6 separate regions of the Homo sapiens genome follow, and all the other regions are linked to region 5. The links come from fine-mapping of genetic effects on gene expression. A gene starts in region 5. Each other region holds a variant in brackets. All regions are shown on one strand. Distances are from middle to middle.

Region 1 (4,089 bases), 190 kb after region 5:
GATGGCATGGTACTGCTTAGATTTTTATAACTGAGGTAATTTCCCAGAGAAGTTTTGAAATCCCAGTAAATTATCAGGATGCCTGTAATCATAGTTTCTATTCAAGAAATCATTTACAGTAATATTAACTTGTTACTTTGTCTTGCAAGAAGATATTGAGGTTTTCTAAGTAAAATCTTCCAGAGAATCGCGATGTATGTCAGTATGAAAAGGTATTTTAAATTCTATTTGGATATTTTTCTGAGAAAAATTAATGTATAAGCTCTTAAATACAAGATATTAGAATATAATTTAATCTAATTATTATGTTTAGGTTTGCAGTACAGATAATTTACTTTCTAAAGCTGACAATTTGTGGCTGAGCACAGTGGCTAACACCTATAATCCCAGCAATTTGGGAGGCTGAGGCGGGTGGATCGCTTGAGGACAAGAGTTCAAGACCAGCCTGCCCAACATGGCGAAACCCTGTCTCTATTAAAAATACAAAAATTACCTGGGCATGGTGGTGCATGCATGTAATCCCAGCCACTCCGGAGGCTGAGGCATGAGAATCGTTTGAATCTGGGAGGTGGAGGTTGCAGTGAGCTGAGGTTGTGCCACTGCACTCCAGCCTGGATGACAGAGCAAGATTCTGTCTCAAAAATAAAATACAGTTGGCAGTTTGTTTCTGACTTTAACAGCCTTCTCTCTTCTCTTGGTATGCCTCCTCTAATATTAGGTTCCATCAGTAAACCTGTAAAGAATTATATACATCGGCCGGGCACGGTGGCTCACGCCTGTAATCCCAGCACTTTGGGAGGCCGAGGTGGGCGGATCACGAGGTTAAGAGATCGAGACCATCCTGGCCAACATGGTGAAACCCATCTCTACTAAAAATACAATAATTGGCATGGTGATGCATGCCTGTAATCCCAGCTACTTGGGAGGCTGAGGCAGGAGAATCACTTGAATCTGGGAGGCGGAGGTTGCAGTGAGCCAAGATTGTGCCACTGCACTCCAACCTGGCAATAAAGCAAGATTCCATCTCAAAAAAAAAAAAAATATATTATATACATCAAATATGAGTCAGGACATTTTTGAAACTTTACACAAAATGTAGGAATTTCGTGACAACTCTAAGGCCCTCTTTGCTTCAGCAAGTAGTTGCTGGAAGATTACACAGTTACATGACATGCATTGAGTATCACTTTTTTCTGGAACTATTTCTGTTTTATTTCAGAACCTGTCTGAGAAACTCTCTGAACAAGAATTACAATTTCGTCGTCTCAGTCAAGAGCAAGTTGACAACTTTACTCTGGATATAAATACTGCCTATGCCAGACTCAGAGGAATCGAACAGGCTGTTCAGAGTAAGCATAAGCTATGTTTATCTTACAGATAATTTTCCTCAGCATAATTTATCAAAATAATTTTATAGGGAAAATGGGGTACATGTACTGACATCAGGACATAAAAATACTAATCACTCTACTTAATTGCAGTTTTTGCCATTAAAAGTAATGGCAAAATCTATATAACTAGAAATTTATACCTTGTATGACAAACACAAAATCACCATTTACAAGGCTATTTACCCAGTATCCTTTGGCTATGTCGCATGTGCCTGGGTGGTAAGGGCTAGGGGTCAGTGTGGTCCCATGCTTGCCTTCCACAGACTTGGTGGGTTATCTGGAGGTGGTGATTTGCCGAGTCCAACTACCAAATGGACAGTATTTATGCTGAGGCCTCCATGTGCCACATTGAAAGAGAAATGTCATGACAATGAGGGTATTAATAAAATGGGTTTTTTTAGGATGTTATGGAATCTTTTTTTGTCACATAACAATAAAAATAAATTCAATACTCATGGAATTTCAAGATCCAGTAGTCTGTTAAGTTCGTTTGAAGTCTCCCATTTCTTTTTTTTTTTTTTTTTTTTTTTTGAGACAGAGTCTTGCTCTGTCGCCCAGGGTAGAGTGCAGTGGTGTGATATCGACTCACTGCAGCCTCCGCCTCCTGGGTTCAAGCGATTCTCCTGCCTCAGACTCCTGAGTAGCTGGGAATACAGGTGCGTGCCACCACGCCTGGCTAGGTTTTGTATTTTTAGTAGACACAGGGTTTCACCATGTTGGCCAGGCTAGTCCTGAACTCCTGACCACAAGTGATCCACCC[A/CA]CCTCGGCCTCCCAAATTGCTGGGATTACAGGCATGAGCCATTGTGCCTGGCCCTGAAGTCTCCCATTTCTTTGCAGAAAATTTCTCATGGCCTTAGCGTTAAGTCTTAGCCTAATTTAAATAATATGTTTCTTTCTCAACTAGTAAAGGTAAAAATATGTGGATTAGATATCATGCAGATGTGAATGACTTCTGACTTTGATATGAAGAGGCCAGCTAGGAAAATACACCAGAAATAAGTGGTGGGGGTGGGGTTGTAAGAAAGTCTCTCTGGCCTCATCTTGCACATGTGTAGATGTAGCTTGTTGAATGTGCATCAGTTCTGTGGATGTATGTTGTCAGATGGAGAGAAAAATGTTTGGCTTTGCCTTTTTTTCTTTGTAGGCCATGCAGTTGCTGAAGAGGAAGCCAGAAAAGCCCACCAACTCTGGCTTTCAGTGGAGGCATTAAAGTACAGCATGAAGACCTCATCTGCAGAAACACCTACTATCCCGCTGGGTAGTGCAGTTGAGGCCATCAAAGCCAACTGTTCTGATAATGAATTCACCCAAGCTTTAACCGCAGCTATCCCTCCAGAGTCCCTGACCCGTGGGGTGTACAGTGAAGAGACCCTTAGAGCCCGTTTCTATGCTGTTCAAAAACTGGCCCGAAGGGTAGCAATGATTGATGAAACCAGAAATAGCTTGTACCAGTACTTCCTCTCCTACCTACAGTCCCTGCTCCTATTCCCACCTCAGCAACTGAAGCCGCCCCCAGAGCTCTGCCCTGAGGATATAAACACATTTAAATTACTGTCATATGCTTCCTATTGCATTGAGCATGGTGATCTGGAGCTAGCAGCAAAGTTTGTCAATCAGCTGAAGGGGGAATCCAGACGAGTGGCACAGGACTGGCTGAAGGAAGCCCGAATGACCCTAGAAACGAAACAGATAGTGGAAATCCTGACAGCATATGCCAGCGCCGTAGGAATAGGAACCACTCAGGTGCAGCCAGAGTGAGGTTTAGGAAGATTTTCATAAAGTCATATTTCATGTCAAAGGAAATCAGCAGTGATAGATGAAGGGTTCGCAGCGAGAGTCCCGGACTTGTCTAGAAATGAGCAGGTTTACAAGTACTGTTCTAAATGTTAACACCTGTTGCATTTATATTCTTTCCATTTGCTATCATGTCAGTGAACGCCAGGAGTGCTTTCTTTGCAACTTGTGTAACATTTTCTGTTTTTTCAGGTTTTACTGATGAGGCTTGTGAGGCCAATCAAAATAATGTTTGTGATCTCTACTACTGTTGATTTTGCCCTCGGAGCAAACTGAATAAAGCAACAAGATGAAAACTGAGTATCTTATCCCTTTTCAAAAAGTACAGTTCTGGCCAGGTGCAGTAGCTCACGCCTGTAATCCCAGCACTTTGGGAGGCTGAGGCGGGTGGATCACCTGAGGTTGGGAGTTCGAGACCAGCCTGACCAACATGGAGAAACCCATCTCTACTAAAAATACAAAATTAAGCTGGGCGTGGTGGCGAATGCCTGTAATCCCAGCTACTCGGGAGGCTGAGGCAGGAGAATCGCTTGAACCTGGGAGGTGGAGGTTGCAGTGAGTCAGGATCGCACCATCGCACTCCAGCCTGGGCAACAAGAGCAAAACTCCGTCTCAAAAAAAAAAAATTCTAGTTTGTTGTATGTACAGAAAATATCCTTGAGAAACAACAACAGCAGAAGTAGGAACTTCTAGCTCACAGTTTCCAGGCTGTGAATTGCGTCACCAGAAGTCCACAGCCTGCTTTTTGCCTTTGAAGGTTTTGGTGAATTGATTCCTGCTGCTCAGACTCAAAAGAGTAATATACAAGCCAAAGTGCCACATGTATTTATAATTGGGGATATATCGTTCTAGTGACTTGTTAAAATGTTGGTCTCTACCCACAAGTTAATTCAGCAGCCCTCTA
Region 2 (4,089 bases), 110 kb after region 5:
TTCAGTAAAACCCAGAGGGCAGAGAGCAAGAACCAGTGGGGTGAAGTTCGAAGGGGGTAGCCACTTGCTCGCCGCATGACCCGGGCGAGCTATTTACCATCTCTGCACCCTAGATTTCTTATCTACACAAGGAATGACACCCCTTTGTAGAGTTGTTGTGAGGCTTCAAATGAAACCAGCCATGTGAAAGTGCTTATGGCCATGCCTGGCGCCAGTGCATAGTAGCTGTTATCATTGTTCTTTTTGTAATTTGTCTCTCCTGAGAAGGCGCATTGTCATGCTGCAAGTGTCCAGGAGCAAAATGGGCCATCTTGGGAGGTAGTGAGGTCCCTGACATTGGAAGGACACAAGCCAAAGCTGGATGGTCAGGTTCGAGGGAGGGATTCCTGCTTTGGCTAGGAAGCGGGCTTAGGTGGCCCTGGCGTCCCTTTGCCTCTAAGAGTCTGTGTTGCCATTTTAGAGGTGAGCCCAGTGGAGGAAGCAGGCTCAGAGAGGTTGTGCACTGGGCTGAGGCCCCCAGGCCCAGAATCCAGGCCTCCTGCCTAGACCTCCCCTGGTGAATTATTCAGGGCAGCCTCAGAACTGGGAATGCAAGAAGCTGGCAGGGTCTGCAGGGAGATGGCAGTGTCTTCTGGGCCTGGAGTATCTTCCCAGCCCAGCATCAGGTAGAAAAGCATTTGGGATGATTTGCTTTGGCACTGGCTCTGCCACTCTCCATGAGCAGAGGTGATGACGTCCCCTGCCATGCCCCAGGGAGGCAGTGGGGAGTGTTCTGGCTGTCCCAGGCTGAGAGGACCAGCTGTGCTGCATTATGCCCCAGCCCTCCTCACTGCTGGCCCCCTTGGCCTCCGCACCTATGACCACAGGGGGCAAAGAGGAAAGGTGCAACCCAGCAGGGAGGCCAAGGACAGTGTAGTGCTCTTTCCAGCTGTTCTGGAGCCTAAAATAAAAGCCATCTCAAAAAGGAAGACAGGAGCTGGGTGTAGTGGTTCACGCCTGTAATCCCAGCACTTTGGGAGGCTGAGGAGGGTGGATCACCAGAGGTCGGGAGTTCAAGACCAGCCTGACCAACATGGAGAAACCCCGTCTCTACTAAAAACACAAAATTAGCCAGGCGTGGTGGTGCATGCCTGTAATCCCAGCTACTCATGGAGTAGCTGAGGCAGGAGAATCGCTTGAATCGGGGAGGCGGAGGTTGCAGTGAGATGAGATTGCACCATTGCACTCCAGTCTGGGCAACAAGAGTGAAACTCCATCTTTAAAAAAAAAAAAAAAAAAAAAAAAAAAGGAAGACAGGTGAAAGATGGCCTGGGGCGTGGATATGGGGCAGAATTTCCTGGGTCAGAGGCTCTTGGGCTATCATACCCTGAAGTAAGGTCAACATGCCTAGGAGGAAGTCTGGCAGAGGAAGCCAATTTATACCGGGCTGGTGTACTCTCCCCAGCTCAGCCCCCAGTGTGGGCCTCAGATGCCAGGCCAGATCAGGTAGCAGAAAGGGCCCCAGAAAAGGGGAAGAGGCTAGACTTCATCCTGGCTGGGTGATGCCGGGCCTGTGCAGACACAGCAAATGCAGCACAGCAAGGCATGCTCCTTCCTCCTGAGCCTCAATTCAGCCTCAGAACTTCTCTCAGAACAACCCAGGCAGTCGCTACCATAGATTTGGCCTTGGCACAGAGGACAGACCTGATTCCCTCAGGCTTTCTTCTTTGTAAAAAAGACCGAATAGTCCCTATTCAGCCTATGTCTTAGGGTTGTGAGGAGAGCAAACCAGAGAATTTGCAAACCCTGGACAGGTGGCAGGGGTTGAAGACAACCTGGAGAGAGGTGGGAGCTGCACCTCGTGGAATTCTCTGCAGCTGCTGGAAGCAACAGATTAAGGGTGCACACAGTGGAACTTGAAAGCATGATGCCAGGTGAAGAAAAGTGCAAAACAGAATGAGATTTTATCTAACAATTTATGTAAAAAATATATGCCTATCATGCAAAGTAACAATACGGAGTTTATATGAAGAACATGTTCAAACAAAAAGTTGCACATTAAAATATTAAAAGTGACACTCCTTGAGGAGGAAGGAGAATGTGAGTGGGGTGTGGGAATAAAAGTCATGTAAAGGCACATAAAAAGGGTTGCCAGGCGCGGTGACTCACGCCTGTAATCCCAGCACTTTGGGAGGCCAAGGCGGGTGGATCACCTGAGGTAGAGAGTTTGAGACCAGCCTGACCAACACAGAGAAACCCTGTCTCTACTAAAAATACAAAATTAGCTGGGCGTGAAGGCGGGTGCCTGTAATCCCAGCTACTCGGGAGGCTGAGGCTGGAGAATTGCTTGAACCCGGGAGGCAGAGGTTGCGGTGAGCTGAGATCATGCCATTGCACTCCAGCCTGGGCAACAAGAGTGAAACTCTGTCTCATTAAAAAAAAAAAAAAAAGTGAAGGGGATCCCATGAACCAGTGTGGACCATTTGCTGTGAGCCAAGAAGGGACATCCATGTGACCTCCTGCATCTTGAGAAAAGG[G/A]AGGAAGATGCACACAAACGAGGAAGGGAGGAAGGGGCACAAAGACTGTCCCTGCACGGTCACTCAGCGCTGCAAGCTCCTGGCAGGCAGACAAGGGTTCTGTGCTTCCCTCTGTAAATGCCTACCCAACATACTCACCACATGCCTGGCACACAGAGACCTCTGTATGTGCAGTGAGGACACAGGGTCTAGGCGTTGGAGAAGGGGAAGGAGAGTTCTTTCCTGTTGCTTTCAGCACCCAGGATGGGGCTGGGCAGTGTACTTGGCCTGACCCTCTCTCTTGCCTGGAGTTTTCCTCTTTGCTTAAAGGGTCAGGGCAGGCAGGGACTGACATGGCCCTCCCTGCAGAATGAGCTGGAAGGTGTGTAGTCAGATACCATATGCTGAATGCCTAGCACTGGACACCAGGAAGTGTACAAGAAATGTTGAAAGAATGATCCTGGCCTTCCATGGACTTGGAGTCACTCAGTGAGCATGTATTTAGTGAGCACCTACTCTATTGCCAAGGCCCAGATGTGCACCAAGACCAATGGCGTGTACAAGGCAGCAGCCAGTTAGGCCTTTGCAAATGCCCAGATGCGAAGCACTTTGGGGTTCAGAGGTAAGTCTGGGGAGGTTTCCTGGAGGACATTCTGAACTGGAAAGCAAAGAGAGGAGGAGGCTTTGGGCAGGGGTGCTTGGAGTTATTTTCCAGAGGGAACTTTGACTCTGTCTCCGGCCTTCCCTAGGGCTGCAGGGTGCAAGGACTGACTTTGTGTGCCAGGTGAGGGTATCTTCTGCACCTGAGCAGAAACTGAATCTGAGATGACTCTTTCCCCACTTTGGTGTCTCTACAGAGACCCACCTTCCTGGGATCCCTATATTGTACACACTGGGATCCCCACACCTCTCCAGGGCCTCCCTGTTTGCCCGGGGCTGGTTCCTGTCCAGTGGGGGATGTCACTGATGGTGCCCCTACCCCATTCCCACAGTGTGTACCTGCTGCTCCACCTGCAGGACCTGGAAAGGTGAGTAAGCAGCCAGCCTCTCCGCAGCGTGCTGGACTCTCACTCGGAAAGAGCTTCTAACCAGGAGTGGGCACCTGACCCTGGGGCTCCCTTTCAGCTGCATGGTCATAGGGAGGGGTCAGGAGGTTAACCCTTTATAACAGCAAACACAGTAGCTTACAGTTCCTGTGGGCTAGAAATCTGGGAGCAGCTTAACTGGGTGGTTCTAGCTCAGGGTCTCTCAAGAGGCTGCAGTCAAGATGTCAGCCTGGGCTGAGTTATCGGAGGGCTTGACGAAACTGGAGGGTCCACTTTCAAGATGGCACTCTTATGGCTGTTGGCTGGGCCTCTCCAAGGCTGCTTAAGAGTCCTTACAACGTGGCAGGTGGCCTGGCCTAGAGTGAGCCATTCAAGAGATAGAGGGCAGGCAGGAAGCCAGGGTACCTTTTCTGTCCTAGGTTTTGAAGTCACACTCATCACTTCTGCCTTATTCTATTTGTTGGAAGCAAGTCATTAAGCACAGCCCACATTCAAGGGGAGGAGAATTAATCTCCACCTCTTGAAGGGAGGAGTATCAAAGAATGTGT
Region 3 (4,089 bases), 100 kb after region 5:
TTGGGAGACCAAGGTGGGTGGATCACCTGAGGTCAGGAGTTCGAGACCAGCCTGACCAATAAGGTGAAACCCCGTCTCTACTAAAAATACAAAAATTAGCCGGGCGTGGTGGTGGCCACCTGTGATCCCAGCTACTCAGGAGTCTGAGACAGAAGAATCTTTTGAACCTGGGAGGCAGAGGTTGCAGTGAGCCAAGATTGTGCCATTGCACTCCAGCCTGGCTGACAAGAGTGAAACTCCATCTCAAACAAACAACAACAACAACAGAAAAAACAAAAAGAGAGAAAGAAAATAAAAAGGAACGCATTAGCACAATAAGTGGTTAAGATCTCTCTAACCTCACTTTTTCACTTTCAGAGTCTCCCGAATCACTTTTCAGCTCGGCGTGTCAGTATCCACTTATGACCATGCCATATCATTCTCTGTTCCTTCTAGTGTGTTGGGTGATGTCGAGCTGTTGTTTCTGGGATTTTCATTCATGCCAGTTTTGATGCTGCCACTTTCTTGATCATACCAGAAAGTGTCAGTGAGATATGTGTTAGACAACTGAGATTCATATTCCTTTCTCAAACAGTTCTTAAATGGTTTGTTAATTAAACACTCAGGGGCTTCAGTTGTCCAGTTATGCCAGGGAGAATAACAACCAAGTATATCTATGTGTAGGCGTTGACAATGATGTCAGGGCGGCAGCAATTGTAAGACCCACCCCAATTTCAGAGATGAAAAATACGTCTTAAAATTGATGAAAATCTGCTGGGCGCGGTGGCTCACGCCTGTAATCCCAGCACTTTGGGAGGCCAAGGCGGGCGGATTACGAGGTCAGGAGATCGAGACCATCCTGGCTAACACGGTGAAACCCCGTCTCTACTAAAAATACAAAAAATTAGCCAGGCGTGGTGGCGGGCACCTGTTGTCCCAGCTACTCTGGAGGTTGAGGCAAGAGAATGCGTGAACGCGGGAGGCGGAGTTGCAGTGAGCCGAGATTGCACCACTGCACTCCAGCCTGGGCGACAGAGTGAGACTCCATCTCGAAAAAAAAAAAAAAATTGATGAAAATCATTTTCAAGAAGTCTAGGAGTAGGTGGGTGTTGTCATTATTATTCTGGTGACTTAGCGATGTCTTTTTAAATTTTAAAAATAGAAACGGGATCTACCTATGTTGCCCGGGCTGGTCTTGAACTCCTGGGCTCCAGAAATCCTCCCCCCTCATCCTCCAAAGTGCTGGGATTGCAGGCATGCACCACCAGATGGGCCTTCTCAGAGCTTTTAGTATGATAATGTGGCTCATGGAATTATGGGGAATATGGTATTAATGCTTTCCAAATTTAGAGAATCCAAATTTATTTCCCCAAAGTAGGGAAACCAATTTTGCAGAATACCAATGAACAACTCGTGGTTCTTCCCAGAAGACAATGGTCTAGAATAACAAAGATTCTGCAGAGCGGAGCTGAACAGACAGTGTGGAATGGGGTTTGTGGAAAGTGAATAGGAATGAGATTTTGTGTAGAGACTGAGAAGGGCTGAAAGGTTTACAAAAGAGAGAGGCATGTTGATTTTTTTTTTTTTTGAGATGAAGTTTTTGCTCTTGTTGCCCAGGCTGGAGTGCAATGGCATGATCTTGGCTCACTGCAACCTCCACCTCCCGGGTTCAAAAGATTCTCCTGCCTCAGCCTCCCAAGTAGCTGAGATTACAGGCGTGCACCACCACGCCTGGCTAATTTTATATTTTTAGTAGAGATGGGGTTTCACCATGTTGGTCAGCCTGGTCTCAAACTCCTGACCTCAAGTGATCCACCTGCCTCGGCCTCCCAAAGTGCTGGGATTACAGGCGTGAACCACCGCGCCCGGTCAGGCATACTGATTTTAACCATCTCAGAGTGTTTTGATGGGCAAGGGCTAATTTGTTTTCAGGAGTCTTGTATCTATGCCACTATAATTTCCTCTGACACAGGCCTAGGTTGATACTGAGCTATTATTATCTCCCTCTCTTTCCTAACCTCTGCCACTGCCAGTGTGATATTGGAGCTAGACTGGCTGGCTTCTGGGAGTTGAATGGAGCACTTTGCTAAAATGAACGTGTACGATGCCTGCTGTTGCTTTCTCTCACATATGTTGCTGAGCGACAATGAGCAAGAACTGGCAAACTGTGTTGAGGGAATT[C/T]GTCCCTGGCCGTTTATTTGGGCTTGGGGTCATGAAGCTTAGGAAGTGACCTTTTCCACCTCTGCTTTCAATAGCAACCTTTGTGTCTTAGGCAGCTTTCAATAGCTTTCAATAGCAACCTTTGTATCTTAGGCAGTAGCCACAGCATCAACATCATTATCATCATAGTTGACATTTTTGAAGACTAAATATGCAATGGGCTATGTGATGGGTATCTTAAGGATGTAATCTCATTGAATCCGCACGAGCAGCCGGCCATTTGGATCCTCTTCTGCAAATGAAGGTCTTGAGGTGGAGAGAGGTTAAGATCACTCAGCTGTTGAATGACAGGGCTGGAATTTGAATCAAGGCCTGACTCAAGAACTGCTGTTCTCAATCTTCACTTTCTGTAGCTTCTGCTAGGATACTTCTGTGTTGTATCTGTACATTTGTCGTTCTCCGCTTTCTCAGAAATCAAACTGTATTTTTGGTGTTTCATGTTAGCACCTAGCACCATGTTCTTGCCCATAAAAAGTACTTGGTAATTGTTGAACAAGTAAAGTAAACGAAGAAATGAGAGGATGAATGAAAGAGTGAGTCAGTGAACAGTTTGCTTGAACACTAACCTAACATTGAGTTACTCACTTATAATTAGCAGAATATTTTCTCACTCATTTCAGAATCAAGTTTTGTTCCTTAGTCATCAAATTTCTTCTAAATTCTAGATGCTGCCTAGAATGTTTCTGCGTAAAATAATCATGGATCATTGGCTGCTATATTTGAAGGGGTTATATAATGGGTGTCTGGCTGGTCCAGCCTCCATTTTGCTGGCAGAGACCACCCAGCTGTTCCTGCCAAGGACGTGAGACCTTGGACCCTTGCCCAACCATCACTCTAGAGCAGTGTCTGAGGCAACCAGGGTGATTTCTGTCTTTTTTCATATAATATCCTCCAAATACTTCTTGGCCTGGACTTACAATTCTTTTTAAATAGTTTTCTTTGTGTTATTGTTGTTGGTTTCCTGGTGACATGGTTTTTATATCTTTGGTAGGTTGGGAACAGATCTAGTTCATATTTTAGTGCATCTTGCTTTTAGTCTGGCACTTCTTTCTTTCTTTTTATTTTTTTGAGACAGGGCCTCACTCTGTTGCCCAGACTAGAGTGCAGTGGTATGATCCCGGCTCACTGCAGGCTCTACCTCTTGGGCTCAGGCGGTCCTCCCACCTCAGTGTCCCGAGTAGCCGGAACTACAGACATATACCACCATGCCCAGCTAGTTTTTAAAATTTTTTGTAGATACAGGGTCTCGCTTGTTGCCCAGGCTGGTCTCGAACTCCTGGACTCAAGCAATCCTCCTGCCTCAGCCTCCCAAAGTACTGGGATTACAGGCATGAGCCACCACGCCTGCCCTCTTCTGGCGTTTCTTCTAAACCTGACTGCAAGCCCCTTTTTTTCCCCCTCCCCTCTAATGAACTCATTTTGCGTCTGCTCCTTGATCCTATCTGGATTTTTCACTTCAGCGAATTGCTGTGCTTTGTTGGTTCATTTTCATTATTTTTTATATTAAGTAAAATGAAAAAAATCTTCCAAACCCTTCTCTCACCCCTGAAAACCTCTTACTCAACTGTTTTGGCCCTTGCTTATTTCATCAATCCCACCAGCAGCCCTCTTGTCAGCGGCTTGAATTGATTTTGTGCTGATTTGTTGGTTCTGTTATGTCTGTTGTGCAGTATTGTCCCCCTGTCCCCCAGATCTCTGGGACCACTCTTTCCTTCATTATCCAAGTGGCATAGAAAACCTCTCCCATGCCACTGCAGTGCCATGCACCCGAGGGAACCCTGCACACCCTCCAGGCTTTCTTCTTTCTGAAGATGTCTGAGTTCATTCATTTGCCTGGTAGTTACTTGCCTGTCACTTCTTGCTCCAAATCCTAGCCGATTCTCAATTTCC
Region 4 (4,089 bases), 25 kb after region 5:
CACCTGGGCCTGCCTTAGCTCAAGAGAGGCTGGGATCCAAACTCTGAGGTCAGTCTGAGCCAGCCCAGCCCTGCAGTGCCTTCCAGGGTGAGACTGAGGCTCAGCATGTTCCTGGAGGCAACTCATCCAGTTTAATGAGACTCCAGGTGGGGAGGTGGTTTCCCTATAGGGCATGGGCAAATTTCTCAGCTGACAGCCAGGCATCCAAGCTGCTGCCACTGGGCTGGCAGCAGGATGAGATCAGCTGTGGTTGTGGCCTTCCTGGCAGGAGGTAAGGCACTGTGGGGCTTGGTGAAGTCACTCAGGTGGGAGCACTGCTCCCGGGAGAATTTGCAGAAGCTTCCTGGGTAGATAGATCATTCCAGTCACTGTGGGTCAGCCTTTTCTTCCCATTAGTCTGCTACTTGGCAGTTTGCAAATGGCTTCACATCTGTGGTTGGATACAAAGTCACAAACGTGGTGGCTCCTGGCTGAAATCAGCCTGCATGTTGCTTGTTTAGCTTGTGGTGTTTTAAATTTGAATCTACTTAAATAGAGAGATGTGGCACCAAAATTCAAATTTTGGGCTTCTCTTGAAGAGTCAGAAGATCTGGCACTGCAGGATGATTCCATCAGGGCAGCATCAGCCAAGCTGAGGGGTGGCTGCTCCCAGGGCCTGTGCTCCCTGATCTGCCTAGCCCCACCTGGCCCAGTTACTGCAGGCTGTGGTGGTGACCATGTCTCATCTCACACCTGGTCTTTTCCATCACTGGCCTGGCCCTTGATTCTGTATTTTCAAAGCAAACTGGGGAGGTGGGCATTAGTATCTCTGTTTTGCCAGAGAGGAAACCGAGGCTCAAACTGGTTTCAATATGTCATGTAGGAAAGTAGTCATGGCCCGATTCAATCATGGCTCTGCCATTTAACAGCTCTGTGACACTGGGTGAGTCACTTGCCCTGTCTGGGTCCCAGCCTTTCCATTCATAAAACAAAGAGGTTGAGGGCTAGCTAGGTAGCAAACTTCTCAGTATAAGAAACAGATGGAATCCAGAGAAGCTGGGAGAGGAGAAGGAAACAAAGGAGAGGTGATGGCCCAACAACTTAGCAGAAAGACATTTTAAAAGGATCTCTAGCCTTAGTAACATAGCAAGACCTTGTCTCTACACACCAAAAAAAAAAAAAAGAAAAGAAAAGAAAAACCAGCCAGGCATGGTGGTACATGCCTGTAGTCCCAGCTACTCAGGGTGTAGGGAGCCTGAGGCGGGAGGATCACTTGAGCCCAGGTGGTTGAGGCTGCAGTGAGCTGTGATTGTGCCACTGCACTCCAGCCTGGGTGACGGAGCAAGACTCTGTCTCAGAATAAAAGAAAATAAAATAATTTCTGATATTCTTTTAATCCATTTGCTTTTCTGTGATATAAACTTGCTCTGTGTCCCAGAATTTTAAGCAAAATTGGCTGTTCACACTAAAAAAGAAAAAAAAAGCAGAAGAAGAAGGATGGTAGCTAAATGCTCTCTGGGGTTCCCGTCTGAACTGATGTCTGTCACTCTGAGTAGTCATTGGCAGTGTGCTGCTAGGTGCCAGAGGAACACAGGATCTGTGCCTTGATTCCCAGACCTAAAGGCAAAACTTAGATCCATTTACCATAATAAAAATAAGTATGTTTGTTGACACATAATTTACAAGTATGCTTTATGTCAGATGTTGCATTGAAAGTCTGCATACATTATTTCTCTTAACCCTGACTGTAGCCCCATGGGGTAGGTACTATTATTTCCATTTTACAGATAAGCAATCAGAGGTTTAGAAAGGGTAAGGAATTTGCCCAGCTCTTTTTTCTTTTTTTGGAGACAGGGTCTCACTTTGTCATCCAGGCTGGAGTGCAGTGGCATGATCAGCACTCACTGCAGCCTCAAACTCCTGTTGTTCAGTTCTTAAACATTACATATTAGAGCCGTGAAGCAAATTCAAATCTGTCTGATTTTACAGCTCTTGTGTTGTCTTTGCCTAAGTGTTGCTGCAGCCCCATCTCCATGAATGGATCATTTATAGTGCAGGGCAATGAGATTAGGGTCCAGTGCTTCTGCAAGCAGGAAGAATCGTTGAAACGCAGAAGTGCTGTGGGCTGGACTGGCTGGTCCAGGGAGGGTGCATGGAAGGGGAGTAAATGGTCTTCCAAACACAGTTTGGATTCCCTTCTGCAGCCAGTATGAAGTTATGTGTGATGGTGAGATTGTGCCACTTGAAGGACCAGACTGGCCTGAAAATTAGTGTCATCTTAGGAGTTCAGGTGGTAAAGGTAGATGTTGAGGTCAAAATACAGAACTTTGCTTTCAGGCAGGGGTGAGCTGGTGAGGGTTTGTCAGGAGGAGTGATGTGAAAGCAGTGTGTCTGTGTCAAGTTGGAAGCAACAAGGGCTGAACCCGAGTCTTGGCGGTGAGAATGA[A/G]AAGAGAGGGCTGCATTGGCAAATCAGTAGAATGGGAACAATCGGCAGGACTTGAACCACACATGTGCAAATCAGAAGGAATTTTAGAAGTCATCTAGTTCCGTCTTGTCCCAGCACAGGGACTCCTCCATTGGTGACCTCTGTGATAGCTGTGCATCAAGTCACTGCCAGTGCAGGATGGTAGAACGGGATCTTACATGGCAGGTAGCTTCTAAGGCCAGCACATAGGGGTGACAGATACTCAGTGTCTACATTGGGTTGAATAATGTCTCTCCAAAATTCATGTCCACCTGGAACCTTAGAATGTGACCTTATTTGGAAATAGAGTCTTTGCAAATGTAATCAAGTTGGGATGAGTTCATACTGGATTAGGGTTAGTCCCAATCCAGTGATTGGTATCCTTATAAAAAGAAAATCTGGACACAGATTGAGACATGCAGAATACTGTGTGACAATTGAGCCAGATTGGAGTGATGCCCGTCCAGGCCGAGGAACTCCAGGGATTGACAGCAGCTGTGAGAACCTAGGAAAAGGCAAGGAAAATCCTCCCCTAGATCCTCCAGAGGGAACGTGGCCCTCATGATACTTTGATTTTAGACTTCTAGACTGCAGAATGATGAGAGAAACAATTTCTGTTGTTTTAAGCTAGGAAATTTATGGTACTTTGTTACTGCAGCCCTAGGAAACTAATGCAGTGTCCACTACCTTTAAAAACCCATCGGCCCCTGCTGGCCCCCCTGTTGCAGGAGGAAATAAGGGCAGCCTGGCACCATGCGGGCAGAACCTGGCAGGACTGGTGCAGGCTCCCGGTATTTTTCTCTTTCCTTTCTAGTGCTCACAATTATTTTAATAATTCCATCTAGAAGTTTGCATTGGTGTTCAGTCACCCCATAATTTAGTCCTAGGGGAACTTCAGTTCCTATGACTATTCCTGATTTCCGTGAATTGGCTTGAATCATCACTACCCTCTCCAGAGTGCCATCTCTCCTCCCTCCCTTAGCTGTATCTATCTACTTTTTCTTCCCTAGACCCTTCTAGACTGAAGTAGATTCTTTGTTCTGCCACCTCAAAGCACACACTGCTAGCACCAATTATTGGACAATGACCTACATAGCTGTCCAGAGGTATCATGTGTGTTTTTGTATTTCTTAACTCATAGATTTGTTTCTTTTAACTTCACCAGTGTTTATGTCTTGCCTCTTAAGTTTATATCATAGTCCTTTGAAGGCACACAGCCTGTCTTTTGCTTCCTTTTATCCTCTATACACCGTACATTGTTATTACTACACATACACACACACACATACACAGAGAGAGAGAGAGAGAGAGAAAGGGGAGGAGAGAGAAGTAATGATGGAGGATAATTTTCCTCATCTAGGAAAGATTAGAAAGGTTGAAGGTTGACTTGAAGGAGAATCTTGATCTTTAGGGTGGAAAGCATGCTCTGGCCCCTAGAAGGTGATGATATGTCTATATACAGTTATGCATTGCTTAATAATAGGGGTATGTTCTGAGAACTGTGTCACTAGATGATTTTTTCATTGTGTGAACATCATAGAGTGTACTTACACAAACCTAGGTGGTACCGCCTGCTACCCATCTAGGCTACATGGTATGGCCTATTGCTCCTAGGCTGCAAACCTGCACAGCATGCTACTATACTG
Region 5 (4,089 bases):
CTTTATCATGGTTTCTGAGGGAAGGAAAGAGTGAAATAAGGCAAGCAGATATAGGATAGGCTAATTTGGATAATTTCAGCGGGTTCTGAAGTACAGGGGCTGTAACTAGTTGTTTGGTGCCTAGCCCTGGACAGGTGTATAGTGTCCCGCGTGTGAGAGCCTGCTAACGGAAGTGGTTGGGGGTATGCAGTTAATAGACTGCTGGAGAAGGGGAACTGACCAGCCTCCAGCCTGAGCCTCAAAACTGGGTCAAGGCAGCATGAAAAAACTGCTACATTACAGCTATTTTATGGGTTCTTTGGAGACCTGAGATATGAGAGCATGTCTCATCTGCAGTCCCTTTGTTGTCCGTGAAGTCTTTCTTCTGACTATATCAGGCACACGCACGCACAGATTCTGCTACATCTGAGAGTACTAAGCTGTCTCCTGCGCTTCTCACATCTGACACTGAATTATACATGACACCATCATCAGCAAAGGACAGGGCGCTGGGAGCACCACGCAGAACCTAAGCTATTGGAGGGTGGGAAAAGCAGCAGCAGAGCCTAGGAGTAGAGGACAAAGCGTTTCCAGTGTAACAGAATAATGTACTATCTGCGGCCGGGACTAGGGTGAGCAGAGTGAGGCGCTCAGTGAGGGTGCAACATTTAAGAGGTGCCATAAAATTCAGCAACTAAAATACATAATAGGTGGCTCACTCCTGTAATCCCAGCACTTTGGGAGGCCAAGGCGGGCGGATCACGAGGTCAGGAGTTTGAGACCAGCCTGGACAACATGGTGAAACCCCGTCTCTACTAAAAATACAAAAATTAGCTGGGCGTGGTGGCGCACTCCTGTAATCTCAGCTACTCATGAGGCTGAGGCAGAAGAATCGCTTGAACCCGGGAGGCGGAGCTTGCAGTGAGCCGAGATCGCGCCACTGCACCCCAGAGCGAGACTCTGTCTCATAAAAAAACAACAACAACAAAAAAAACCACCATAATATTTAATACGGTATTTTAAAAAATACATAAAAACGTTTATATAGGGTGCACAAGTTCCCTTTTGCCTAAGAGTTCAACGTGGCTCAGCGGGGCACTGGTGCTAAGCAGTCGCAGCTTCTAGTCTCCTCCTAGGGCCCGGAGCAGCCCCCAAGGAAAGGCCTTCCCTAGGAAGAAGTAGCCCTTCAGCCCAGCCTAGAAGAAGGAGCTGAATCAAACCAAGGCAGGACGATGAGGCGTGGCGTGTACTGACAGGGAAGAAGAAACAGCAAATATTTGAGTCCAAGATGCCTGGAGGGAAAAGAGCTAGAGGACTATTTGGGGGAATGGTCTTGGCAACACGGTTCTAGGCAGGTACCACGATCATATAGGGACTCTGTAGAATTTTAAGTAGGGAGGCAAGCGCCCAGGTTTGTTTCTTATGCAGAAAGTGCTGAGCAACGGACAGACTGAAGAGGTTAGGTCTGGATCCAGGTAAACCCTTTATGAGGCTAACGCACTAGCTGAATGAGGGATGACAGCATCCCACCTAGACAGGTGCAGACAGATTCCCGAGGTTCAGGTTCGGACTTCAGTTTCTCCGCTGGAACGCTGAGGGTGGGGCAGCACCCGGGTCCCTGCCCTGCAAACGGGGCCGCTGCAGGGTTCCTTTGGCGGGGCCGGTGCCCCGGGGAGCGCGCAGGACGCGCCCGCCTTCAGCCGGGGGCCAGGGCGAGCGGGACGGGGCGGGCCCGCGGGTGCCCTGACCAGCTCACCGCCCAATCGCTGCGGGCCCGCCGAGCCCCGGGGGGCTGGGGCCGCCGCCGCCGCCGCCAGAACGTGCCGCGGCTGCGCCAACGCGCGAACGCCGGGCAGGGCGGCGGGCGCGCTCAGTCTGGCGGCGGCTGCCGTGAGCTGACTGACGTTCCGGGAACGCCGCAGCAGCCCGCGCCGCCCGCAGCCTAGCCGAGCCGCGCCGCCCGGGCCTCGCCCGCCCGCCTGCCCGCCATGGTGTCATGGATCATCTCCAGGCTGGTGGTGTAAGTGGCCTTCTCCCCCGCGCCCCTCCGTCCCCTCCCTCCCCGCCCCCGGCCCCGGGCTGCGCGCGCCCCTACAGCGCCCGGTCCCAGTGGCTCGGGCTATTAATACCCGGCGCAGCTAAATTTAGCAGGTACAGTAGCCGCCGAGGACGCCTGCGGGCGGACGGGCGGCGCAGGACGCGGCTGCTGCCCAGGAGGCAGCCGGCGCCGGCGGCCGCTTGCGGGGGGCTGGGCCGGGACGGCGAGGGCTGGGGCGCTCGGGGGTTCCGTGGGGGCTGCGTCTCGCCGCGCGCTGGCCGCTTTGTTCCTCAGCTCGGTCGATTTGCAGAGGCCCCGAATGGGCGCACCGCGGACACGCGTCTCTCTCCTTTGGCAGAAATGTGAGGTCGCCCGGCGCCGCGCCCCGCCGCCCCAGCTTTTGTCAGGTGGAAAGGACAGCGCAGACGAACCAGGGGCGCTGCCTGGAGGGTCAGCGCGGAACGGGTGGAGAGGCAGAGGCGGGGCTCCCAGTGGGGTTGGAAAAATCCTCCTTTTTAGGTGTCTGCATCGACAGCGGCAAAGGCAGCTGGGACATGGGAAGACGCATGTGAATCTTGGAGTAAACGCCTGGAGCCCCCGGCTCCGACTCCTTTTGCAGGGGATTGAGAGACAGGGGCAGGTACCTCCAGGAATGCACGGGAAATTTTCAAGTGACAGCCACCCGCATGGTGGCGATGACACCTCCCAGGCCTTGCAGGAGAGCGCAGAGTCATCTAGGGTGAGGTCTGTGTGAAGTCATTGGGGGTGGGCGTGGGGGCCGATTTTCTCCTTCAAGCCCCAGGACCTGTAGGCGTTTGAAGAGCTTCCCCGGTGGATTTATTCTCCTTTGGAGATAGACGTGGCTGTTCCAAGTCCCTGTTCTTCCCTAACCATCCTGGCCTGAGTCAGAACAGATTTGCCACCTGCTGTAGCTAGCAGGGGCTGAAATGGGTGTGGGGAGTCTAAGGCGGGGAGGAGGGTGGCAGGCACCTCGGGCTTTTTCTTTGTCTGAGAACACGGGGCTCTGGACCCCAGTGATTGTGCACCATCACTCCCCACGTTTTGAAACACCACCCATCTCCCTTCCCTTCTTTACTGATTTTCCCTTCCGAAGTGGATCTCAGCATTGTCTCCCGCCACCATTCAGGGCTTTCCTCCCAAAGCCAGTGTCTGTGCCTCTCAGCCCCCAAGTCATTCCGTGAAGGCCTCTCCACAGCTGTTCCTGACTGCGGGGTGTTTGCGCTGCACCTTGAGGTGGCATGTTAAATATTTAGAAGATTTCTGCTGGCAGAGCCGACATGAATAATACAGGAAAGTGGCTGACACGCCTTGCCCAGCCTCATGCCTGACCAACACTGTCTTGCCTTCAGGGTGGTGTTTCCTCTCTGGGATCGATATTGCCAGTGGCTTCTGGGAAGCCCTCAGGGTGGGGCTGGAGAGTTGAGCTGGCCTGGCTGGTGGGCTCTCTGTAGGTCCTGCTGGGCTGGGAGTGAGGGCATCTGATCCTGGGTCATGTGACTATCATTAGTTTTATTAGCACTGGGTCATGTGACTATCATTAGTTTTATTAGCACCTCCCTCACCCCTGCCCTTTTTTTTTTTTTTTTTTTGAGACCGAGTCTCGCTCTGTCGCCCAGGCTGGAGAGTGCAGTGGCACAGTCTCGGCTCACTGAAGCCTCCGCCTCCTGGGTTCAAGCGATTCTCCTGCCTCAGCCTCCCGAGTAGCTGGGATTACAAGCGCCTGCCACCACGCCCAGCTAATTTTTGTATTTTTAGTAGAGACGGGGTTTCACCATGTTGGCCAGCCTGGTCTTGAACTCCTGACCTAGTGATCCGCCCGCTTCGGCCTCCCAAAGTTCTGGGATTACAGGCGTGAGCTACCACGCCCGGCTCCTCCCCCTTTTTTACAATGAGCAACTGATGGGGGTGGAGAGGAGAGGCATATATTTGGGAGGTGTCTCAGGGATGTGCTGTTGCTTTCTAAAACAACCACACTCCCTAGAACCGAGACTTCAGAGAATTTAAATGAACAGCATTATGTGGCCCAAGGAGAGTTGATGGGATTTGGGATT
Region 6 (4,089 bases), 130 kb after region 5:
ATATTTTATAAATTATACATATAATCGAACATCATTTAGGTAAACTCTTTAATGAAAGACATTTATTGTCAGATTATAAAATCAGTGTTGATGATAAGCCCTCCTACCCACAAAACAAAAATCGTATGTATGAAATTCCCTTTCCCGTAAGTTATGTGCCTGTCAGCCATCCCACTTCAGTCCATCTTTGGATGCTGAGGCTCTGGTTGCCAGTCCTTATCTCTACACCTGTCCCTGGTCTAGAGGAGAAACGAAGGTGCTCTGAGGCCCCTGTAACAGAGACCCTTGTCATCCATATTTGCAATAAAGACATCATGGAGGCTGTGCAAAAGTATCCTTCTCCCCAACTTCTGCAGGCACCATTTCCATCTCACTACCCAGAGGTACATCAGAGAGCAGGAGCCAGGCAGGTGACAAAGATGTGGAAGGCTTCTAAGTGGTTGGCTTTGCCGTCTCAGAAGTGCGAAGAAATGAAAATCCATCAAAACAGAATGCCATTCCATGTTTCAGGCTTTTACCTCACCTCAAATCAAATGTCTGTTCTTTATTTATTGGTCCCATAAGTAGACACGCACTTGGACTTCTGGTTTTAGAACATTCTATTGTTATCCTTTCTCCTTTTAATAAACACACACTAGTTTCGAGGAATCTCCCTAATAATCCTGGCCTGACATGCTGCAGAACTTCAATTTCATAATTTTACTAACAACAGAGGAATTTCATCTTATTATTACCAACTACCACATTAAAGGATCTGAAACAGTAATTCATGCATAATTCTATTTAATAATGGTTTTCAAAGTACTTTGCTGTTTGAAAATGCTTCCCAGATGATTCTGATCGGAGAGTTGGGAACCACTGCCCTAGACTGTAACCACTCAATTGAACTTTACTCAGTGCTGCTTCCCTGCCCACTTCAAGTAAACAATGCTTAACTTTTTCGTTTCTAAAACAACTGAGATTACTTTCTCCCCCTTAGTTTCTACAATGATTGTTGAAAATTTGTGGGAAAAGTTTATCCTTACAAATGAAAACATGAAATCTGAAGTGGATAAACTAACTTTTAAGAAATACATATCCTTACTCAGTAAGCTGAGGCAGGAGGACCACTTGAGCCCAGGAGTGCGAGGCTTCAATGAGCTATGATTGCACCACTGCACTCCAGCCTGGGCAACAGAGCAAAACTCCTGTCTCTAGAAAAAATAAATACCTATCTTTCAAAACTTGCATAAAAAGCCCTTGTCTTCACTTGTACAGCCTCTTCTGTTTCATGAATGAGCATGCTGAAGGGCTATTTACTCTCCTATGAAAAAATGTTGTTACAGTAAATGACAAGTGTTATGAACACAATGAACCTGGTGTGTTAGATGTTAAGTGTGCTGCCACCCCATGTGAACCTCCAAGTGAAACTGCTCACATAACTGTTTTTTTGCTGCATGCAAACCTGCTAATACAAAGCGGGCTCCTGACTTAAGGACAGCCAATCCCTACTCTAGACAATGACCCAACCAGACCTAGTATAAAAAGGTAGTCTGGCCCAGTTAAATTCCCTTGGCAATTGGAGACTAGCAGCAGGAGCTGAAGGTCATCATGTAGAAAAGAACCTCAAAGGTGCAAGTTAAAGTTATTACAAAGGAACAGAAACTGTAAGTATGCAAAAGCTGTGTAGAGAAGTTGGTGAATAGAGAGAATGGAGTTAACAATGCAAAAAGAAGCAAGTCACATGCATGCAGAGCCCAAGCCTAAACATCCACCTTCCCCTGCTGAGGAGCACCACCCAATTTCTACTCTTCCTGAGGCTGGGAGGTGATTTCTGAGTGGGAGATGGGGTTGGTGAGGTGGTTCCTGAATTCCC[T/C]GGCACATATCCTTGAAATAATGTCACATTGCTTGAGCTAACTTGTAGCTTTTGAGTCTTTTTATGTTTGTCCCACTTGAGATTCCTTGCAACTAAAAGAGCATAACTGAAACAACTAGTTAAGCCAATACCATTTGTTAAAAATAATGCACCATTCTAAATTTCTGTTTCCCTAACCAAATCTGGCAAAGTCTGATCCATTAAGTTTTAAAACTTTTCTAAGTTTAATGTTGTCACTGTATGTTTACGTATTCATTGGTACAATTTACATCAAGTTTTGTACTTATCCATTTTTGCAAAGATATGTACACAAAGATACATATCCAATAACTGAGAAACAAGTGAAACTTCTGATCTATACTTTCAGGTTTGTTCGATCATGATACTTCTGATAAGGATCATCAACGTACCAGTTTCGCCTCTTCCAGAAGGACGTCGTCATTTTATCTAAGAGTTTACTCTGGGTTTTATTGCAGAATACAAATTCCCTCAATCGCTTCTTCCTTGCAGGTGTCTTTTTCCATAATTTTTTCTTATAGCCAGCCTGTCAGATATTACAAAGAAATGTAAAACATCATACTATGTATGAAACAACAGGTATCTTCACAACTCAAGGTTTATAGACCCAATAAGAACAAAAACCAGACTTCCATAGGGGCTGGACTATTTCTTGGAAAGATGTGATTCTCAATGGCCGGGGGAAGGGAGGGTGGCGGGGAGGGGGATGGAGAAAGCATGTGTAGTTTAAAAAAGAATTAGTAATAAATCATATTTTAGAAAAAAATTATTTAAATTAAACTCACAGAAAATAAAACTAAATGTGTGTGGCTGGGAAAGTACAAGATAATGACAGAATTATAATCACTAACTTAACAGGTATGATCTTACTATCTCTTCAGCAATCTTTAACAACATACTATTATTCTATTTTACATCTTTAAAAAAAGAAACCATTGATTAGAGAAGTAGCAGACAGAGGTCTGAGGGCTAATAAGAGTTCTTTTTTTGTTTCATTTTGAGACAGGGTCTCACTCTGTCACCCAGGCTGGAGTGCAGTGGCATGATCACGGTCACTGCAGCCTCTACCTCCTGGGCTCAAGTGATCCTCCTGCCTCAGCCTCTCGTATAGCTGGGACCACAAGTGTGCACCACCATACCCAGCTACTTTTTAAATTTTTGTAGAGATAAGGTCTCACCATCTTGCCCAGGCTAATAAGAGTTCTTAACCACTGTCTTTCCTAATGTAGAGGAGGATGGAGTGCAGGCGAGGTAACAACATTAATATTTATTAAGGAGGCTGAGTATTACAAGAGCTGAGAAGCACAGTTCTCAAATATATTGCTTCATTTATTATTTTCACACACAAGGGACCAATTTTTATAGGAAGTACTTTTCTAAGGAATTATGAATATGGTAAGACTATTATTAGGAGTGGTGAAGGAATGGTTAACCCACATATTTAACCCAGAACTTTCATATACACCCATACAGGTATTATTCATTTTGAAGAATTTATTTTTAAAGACAGGAAAGGAAAATTTGATTGATTATAAAAACTATAATCATAGCCTGTTTAAACTAGAAGGGATCTTAGGTGCCATCCAGCTTAATTAACATCTGGCTAAAACCACACGGTGAGCCCTTGGGTCCTTTCAAGCCAAGGGCTCTTTATGGCACAATACCAACTGAACAAAACCATGGCTCTTTGCCGAGAATGTGCCTTGCATTTCTGACATGTCTTAGTATCATCACTGTGACCATCAACTTCTATAAGGACAGTGATGAAATAAGGAAAGGTTATTTAAGAGTTCTGGTTTTAGAATGCTAGAGGTTAGATTTTTGCTACTCACTGCTTACAATTTTAAATGCAAACATTTAAAGCCAAATCTCCACATTTGTGTAATAATTTCATAGTTTGCAGGCCAAACTGGGTTACTATGGATCTCTGACGTACAAACACCTAATTTATTGCCCTGCTCATTACCACCAGTATCCTTTAAAGATTATTCACAGAATGGAACCACTATGAAAATGCTTGAAATTTTTTAGACAATCTCTAGATTCAAAAATGGAAGGAGGGAATGAACAATAAATACCAAGGACTGCTGGATGAAACCGTGTCATGGAAAATACTTTGTTTTACACATTAGTTTGAATTCATCTACCCAGATTTTTTTTTTCTCTGAAAATTAGATTTTGAAGAGGCAGGGCATTCTATACAGGGTATACTTTCG

Which allele goes with the higher level. Positions count from the first base shown, and alleles are read on the strand shown. Sizes are in standard deviations (SD) of each study's normalised expression. Not every link is listed here.
With allele A in place of G in region 2, the expression in cerebellum of the gene that starts at base 1,852 in region 5 is higher (small effect, 0.37 SD a copy in GTEx).
For the expression in cerebellar hemisphere of the gene that starts at base 1,852 in region 5, T is the high allele of the variant in region 3 and C is the other (small effect, 0.31 SD a copy in GTEx).
In carriers of allele A in region 4, the expression in unexposed skin of the gene that starts at base 1,852 in region 5 tends to be lower than with G alone (small effect, 0.32 SD a copy in GTEx).
As copies of T replace C in region 6, the expression in lung of the gene that starts at base 1,852 in region 5 goes up (small effect, 0.34 SD a copy in GTEx).

The links. PIP is the estimated chance that this variant, and not a neighbour inherited with it, causes the effect. A credible set is the group of variants that fine-mapping cannot tell apart.
Region 1: its variant is the best candidate, but not a certain one, in a credible set for the expression of REEP1 in whole blood (INTERVAL, PIP 0.71).
Region 2: its variant is the best candidate, but not a certain one, in a credible set for the expression of REEP1 in cerebellum (GTEx, PIP 0.73).
Region 3: its variant is the best candidate, but not a certain one, in a credible set for the expression of REEP1 in cerebellar hemisphere (GTEx, PIP 0.67).
Region 4: its variant is the best candidate, but not a certain one, in a credible set for the expression of REEP1 in unexposed skin (GTEx, PIP 0.64).
Region 6: its variant is the best candidate, but not a certain one, in a credible set for the expression of REEP1 in lung (GTEx, PIP 0.58).

The regions. Positions count from the first base shown.
Region 1 is chr2:86,143,328-86,147,416 of GRCh38, reverse strand. IMMT (inner membrane mitochondrial protein) reads left to right here. Exons shown (of 15, transcript NM_006839.3): 14 at 1,220-1,349; 15 at 2,536-3,481. The coding sequence ends at 3,149. Among named protein-coding and RNA genes, the nearest start is that of SNORD94, 9.5 kb to the right of the region's middle. RefSeq lists a silencer at 3,205-3,405. The variant A/CA (reference allele first, on the strand shown) is at 2,152.
Region 2 is chr2:86,226,797-86,230,885 of GRCh38, reverse strand. It overlaps REEP1 (receptor accessory protein 1), which reads left to right. Exons shown (of 9, transcript NM_001371279.1): 7 at 3,488-3,523. Among named protein-coding and RNA genes, the nearest start is that of MRPL35, 29 kb to the right of the region's middle. RefSeq lists an enhancer at 1-174. The variant G/A (reference allele first, on the strand shown) is at 2,517.
Region 3 is chr2:86,233,696-86,237,784 of GRCh38, reverse strand. All of the region lies in intron 5 of REEP1 (receptor accessory protein 1), which reads left to right. Among named protein-coding and RNA genes, the nearest start is that of MRPL35, 36 kb to the right of the region's middle. RefSeq lists a silencer at 2,025-2,319. The variant C/T (reference allele first, on the strand shown) is at 2,161.
Region 4 is chr2:86,310,374-86,314,462 of GRCh38, reverse strand. All of the region lies in intron 1 of REEP1 (receptor accessory protein 1), which reads left to right. Among named protein-coding and RNA genes, the nearest start is that of REEP1, 25 kb to the left of the region's middle. The variant A/G (reference allele first, on the strand shown) is at 2,426.
Region 5 is chr2:86,335,389-86,339,477 of GRCh38, reverse strand. It overlaps REEP1 (receptor accessory protein 1), which reads left to right and starts at 1,852. Exons shown (of 9, transcript NM_001371279.1): 1 at 1,852-1,999. The coding sequence starts at 1,968.
Region 6 is chr2:86,208,790-86,212,878 of GRCh38, reverse strand. It overlaps MRPL35 (mitochondrial ribosomal protein L35), which reads right to left. Exons shown (of 4, transcript NM_016622.4): 4 at 1-2,399. The coding sequence ends at 2,211. Among named protein-coding and RNA genes, the nearest start is that of MRPL35, 11 kb to the right of the region's middle. The variant T/C (reference allele first, on the strand shown) is at 1,856.